Linked DNA regions of Homo sapiens: region 1 is linked to region 2. Evidence: fine-mapped expression QTL. A gene starts in region 2. The other region holds a variant in brackets. All regions are shown on one strand. Distances are from middle to middle. Region 1 overlaps LINC02450 (long intergenic non-protein coding RNA 2450). Region 2 holds the start of LINC02450 (long intergenic non-protein coding RNA 2450).

Evidence for each region. PIP is the estimated chance that this variant, and not a neighbour inherited with it, causes the effect.
Region 1: its variant is the best candidate, but not a certain one, in a credible set for the expression of LINC02450 in tibial nerve (GTEx, PIP 0.70).

The regions. Positions count from the first base shown.
Region 1 is chr12:42,714,995-42,717,812 of GRCh38, forward strand. LINC02450 (long intergenic non-protein coding RNA 2450) reads left to right here. Exons shown (of 4, transcript NR_135028.1): 4 at 1,497-2,125. Among named protein-coding and RNA genes, the nearest start is that of LINC02450, 24 kb to the left of the region's middle. The variant C/A (reference allele first, on the strand shown) is at 1,661.
Region 2 is chr12:42,691,004-42,693,821 of GRCh38, forward strand. It overlaps LINC02450 (long intergenic non-protein coding RNA 2450), which reads left to right and starts at 1,213. Exons shown (of 4, transcript NR_135028.1): 1 at 1,213-1,273.

The DNA of each region.
Region 1 (2,818 bases), 24 kb after region 2:
ATTCTACCCTCACATGGTTGAGAGCAGAAAGAGAGGAAGCTCTCTCATGTCTCTTTGTATGTGTATATGGGCACTAATTTCATCATGACACCTCAACCCTCATGGCCTAATTGTTTCCTGAAGGCCTCATCTCCAAAGACCCTAACATTGGAGATTCAGGCTTCAAAATGCAAATTTTGGGGAGACACAAATGTTCAGTCCATAGCACCAATTTTGAAGCTCTTCACTTAGTAGGGCAACATTGGAAAAGTTATGTATAATAACTTCTCTGAACCTCACTATCATCATCTGTAAAGTGGAGGAATATCTACCTTGAAGTGAGGGCTAAGATAAATTATAGTGAAGGTTTATCATAGTGTCAAGCATTTAATGTCAGTTATTTAATATGTTATTTCTCCATCTTGTCCACTAGATACCACAAAATTGATCTGAAATTTCATTATCACAGTTTCAATATTTTCCTGTCTTTGGTCTTTTGGAACTTTCCCCCTTTTTTTTTTTTTTTTTTTTTGAGACAGAGTCTCACTCTGTCACTCAGGCTGGAGTGCAGTGGTGCGATCTCACTGCAAGCTCTGCCTCCTGGGTTCGCGTCATTCTCCTGCCTCAGCCTCCTGAGTAGCTGGGACTACAGGTGCCTGCCACCATGCCCAGCTAATTTTTTGCATTTTTAGTAGAGACGGGATTTCACCGTGTTAGCCGGGATGGTCTGGATCTCCTGACCTCATGATCCACCTGCCTTGGCCTCCCAAAGTGCTGGGATTAGAGACGTGAGCCATGGCACCTGGCTGAGCTTTTCCTATTTTTAATGACTTTTAAAGGATTAATTGGCAATGATCTTGATATAAGCCTAGAGATTTGTTTAACAGCTGAGAGCAATTATGACTTCCTATAGAGCACTAGATTAGCCTAGTGACTAATACAAATAATATCATTAATTTGGGTGCTGGGGAGAGGAACTCCATAAGAGTTGAGAATCAAACCTGGAAGTCAGACAGTAGCTTTTTTTTTTTTTTTTTTAAATGTGGTATGCAGAAGTGGAAGACCATGCAGGATAATTTTTATTAGATTTTATTACAGAACATTCAGCACAAATATTACTGCTCAGATTGGGGTGGGTGATTGTTGCATTTACTTGGACATTGTTTATCTGATAGTATCATCATGATTAGGAGGTTCTGGGATCAGACTGACCTGGCTCCATCATTTGCCAGTGTGTGTAAGGTCACAGCTGGAACCTTGACTGAGTCTGTTTGCTCGTCACTTAAATGGTATCCAGAACATAAGATGGTTTGAGGATCATGGGAGAATGTGTGTCTGAAGTGCTTATCCTGGTTCCTAGTCCATAGTGGTGGACTCAATAAATGGTAGCCGTGATTTTAACTATGGTAAGAGAAAATTTCGCAAAGGAACTGGCCGCCAAACACCACTAAAAATTTAATCATTGCCTTTTTTACAGCAGGCAGATTATAGGAATATTTGCTTTCTTTTCTCTCAAGGGTGTAACACTGTGACCAACGAAGAGAGTGTTTTCTATCAGTGACTCGCAGACTTCCCTTTCACTGGAATCCAGCTTATTAGCTGCATGGTTAACTTTGGAGCCAGGAAAACATCCTGCACATGACACTGCCATCAAGCAGAGGAGACATGTTTCTCGGCTTCC[C/A]CTCTCTGGGACTTAATAGCCTCTGAAGGCTAGCCTTTACTGACTCATGAAGCTGTGTCTGCCTGGGGTCAGTGGTGGAGACATTGCGTTAACCCCAGCAAGCGAGCCATCACCAGAGCTTTGCACAGGGAGACACCACATAGAAAGGCAGATGAGGCAACACACACACCATCCCCAGACAGCCATGGGTCCCCAGAGACAGGAAAAATATGTGTTTTCTTAAAGAATTAGAAAAGAAAACCTTGCTTTTTCCTGTGTGGCTCATTGGTAGGAGATCTCAAATTCTAACCCTTGTTTTCTCTTTTACCTCTCTGTCTGCTAAAAAGCACTCCTTAGATCCAGTATCTAGCATGGTGAGCCTCCTGGATGCAGTGCTGCAGTGGCCACTGCTGGGTCAAAAACAAACACTGGGAAAGGAGGAAAATGATGTTTTTCTCTCTTTCAATAAAGCATTTGAAATCTCTAGTTCTGTTTTCTCCTTTCTCTCTCTGGTGTCCCATGTATGCAGTGATGAGAAAGGAAGTTCTTCCATCTGGTGTTTGTGACTCAATTATTCCTAACCCATTTTTATGTTGTTCTACCAGTAGTAGTTCCCCAGGTGCAGGTCACCTTCCTCTCTTATGACTCCCTGTACTCCAGGCTGTTTCTGGGATAGGTGTTCATGGTTGGGGAGAAACTGTACTCTCAACATTAGCAGAGAACATTTACTGAGTGATTGTAAATTGGTCCCTAGAGAGGTCCTGGGACATTTTCTTAGTGAGCCAATGCTGACTTCTGGAGAGCATTCCTTAGTAGGTGTCAGGATCAGCTTCATAATCTAGTCTAGAACTTTGTTAAGCTCAAGCTTTATGATAATGTGTGTCCATTTGTAATTATCACCTCTAATCATCATCTGGAAATGTAGATTTCAATTTGTGTGCAAAGGTGCCCACTGCCTTGGTTTTCTAGTCTGTTTTACGTAGTCTATTCTGTGCTTTTTAAGTCGACATACATTTTCTTTAGTAGACAAGGAATGATACTCCTGTTAGTAATGAAGAGAATGGTCAAAAAAGGCTGGGGATATGGTTGGGGTTAGATTTGTGCCATCCACATATGGCGGGTGGCAACCATATTGGACGGTGTAGATGTAGAACATTTCCATGATCACGGAAAGCTCTA
Region 2 (2,818 bases):
TACAAATATTTCCTTCCAGTCTGTGGTTTATCTTTTTATTCTCTCAACAGTGTCTTGTAGAAGCTTTTCATGTTGATAAGTCCAGTTTATACTTTTTTCTTTTGTGGTCCAGCTTTTGGTATATTTTCTTTTTTGTTTGTTTTTTGAGATGGAGTCTCACTCTGTCACCCAGGCTCACTACAACCTCTGGGTATATTTTCTAAAATCTTCACCTAAGCAAGGCTGTAAATATTTTCTTCTAAATTTTCTTTTGGAAATCTGTGTATAGTTTAGGTTTTTCATTTAGGTCTGTGATCCATTTTGAGTTAATTTATGGATAAGGTGAAAGGTATGGGTCGAAGTTCACTTCTTTTCACTTAAGGTTGTGTCTCAGAAAGCCAGCAACAATGTTGAGAAGGGATTGGAGAGACAAGAAAGTTGAATGTTTCTTAATTTATCTCTTGTTCTAGGACTTTGCGCATCAGTAGATAAATGGAAAAATCATTCCCAACACAGGGATTGCTGGCATTTATGAATCAATTACATTGATTTGGCCAATATGAATGGTAAAATATTTAAAAAATACATAATAATTAGCCTGTTGGACGTATGACTTAGTGATTTGGCTGTATAGATATAGCTTGAACCCTTCTTTTGATCCAAATTTACTCCCTTATTTATCACTTGAGAGTTATAAGGAATTTAAAAGGAAGAATGTTTTATCTTTTATGTTCTATGATTGTACATCTGAGTAAGACAATTGCTATTATGCTTTGCTAATACTCCTGGTGGTGTCATGATATAAGGGAAGATGAATTTACTTTGACTAATGTATAAGAAAAAAAATCTGTTTTAAGAAAATCGAGGTGTTGGCTTATGAAAGATGAAATTCCAGAGACTCCTCATTTATGTTTTAGACAACAAAAATAATACATAAGCAAATGGAAGAGAGGCAGGAGAATAGGGTCTGGAGTCAGGGAACCTAAGGCCATTTCACACTGACTTCCTAGAACTAAATTGAATGGAAAACCCTAACTTTGCACATCTAAGTAACAAAAGGACCAGGGGCTACTCCCTTTGCAAACCCCCACGTTTTCTGCATGGCAGATGGGAAATTGAAAGTACTTCTGATTGGTTGCTTTTTGCATAGGAGTGTAACTTTGTAACGTCAGCCTCTGATTGGTTGCAGATAGCAACCAATCAGACTGATCGCCAGCAAAGTCTTTGTTTGCATAGACGTTCAACTTTGTAACTTCACCTTAGTCTCTGAGGGCCACAGCTTCATTTACATGAGGTGAACACAAAGTGGCCAATGGGAAATCTCTAGGGGGTATTTGGACCTGAGAAGATTCTATATCCAGGCCCTTGAGCTGCTGCCGCTGCCGGCTCCCACACTGTGGAGTGTACTTTCACTTTCAATAAGTCTCTGCTTTTGTTGTATCATTCTTTCCTTGCTTTGCTGTGTGTTTTGTCCAATTCTTTGTTCAAAATGCCAAGAACCTGGCCAACTTGGAGTCAAGACCCTCTACCGGTAACAGAACTACTTCTTCCGCCCATTCTACAACTTCATTTTTAATGAATAATCTATGCTATTCTTGAATTTCTTTAAATTAAATTAATTCATTTAAACTATCAAGTGGAAAGTAGAGAGTAGGGGTTTAGGCTGTGGAATCCAAATACTCAGGTTCAAATCCTAGTGTCTCTAACTGCATGACGGGAAAGCTCCTTAAATGCTGTGATCTCATTTCCTCCTCTATAAAGTGTGAAAGATGATATTTATACATATGGCTCTTGTGAAAATTAATTGAAATAGTGCTTTAAATGCTTAACTAAGACTGATAAGTAGTATGTGATCAATAAATATCAGCTATTTTTAGTAAAATTGAGAGCTTCCTTTAAGCTATTCTATGCATTGTGAAAGGATATAACCATGGAACAATACAGGGCTTCCTTCCTCAGGGAGTTTGCAATTTGCAACTCATTTAGGGATGCAGATGTGTAAAGAATGACCACTTAAAATTCAACCAGAGGCTGCTCTGCCTATGGAGTGGCCATTCTTTATTACTTTCCTAATAAGCCTGATTTCACTTAAAAACCAGAATGAAATAAGTGTTGTATTATATTTGTTAGGTGAGGTTAGAGTGATTATCAACCCCTGGGTGGATTAGAGGATGTTTCAGCCAAGGACAGTGTTTGATTTGGACCTTGGAGGAGGAGTAGCGGTCTCATAAATGGAGAAGCAGAAGAGAATGACTCACACATTGGTCCAGAAAGGATTTGGAGAAGAATTCTCTTGAGCTGAAGAAGGAAGGATAGGGGGTGGTGGGAAAGAAGTGATAGAAAAAGCAAGTAAAGAACAGATTTTAAAGGGACCAGAATGCCAAGAGGAGAGGTTGGGCTTGGGCTTTTCTTATTCACCATATTTTATACCTTTTTCATATTAGTTCTTGGAAAAAGCCAGCCTGGAAGACTACTCATGAAAGGTTTTCTCTTCCTTTTAAAAAAAATATAAAACAAAAAACAAAAACCACCCTTGTAAATCATTAATGGCCCATTTTAAAAAGGAGATTACAGCCTGGGAGTTACTATTTTTCTGTTAGAGAAATAAAAAGGAATATGTTGAATTATATGAAATATGAATTGGCCTCTGTGCTCCAGTACCTATCTGGGACAGATTTATAAATACTGAAATGATATAAATGATGGTTATTCAACCCATTTAACATTAGAGAACTTTTAATGGCAAAGCAAGGACACTGAAAGAAAAGTTTTAGGGAAAAATAGTGGTAGTCTGGAAATCTAAAAGTTATTCTTTATTCTTCCATATTGATTTACATCT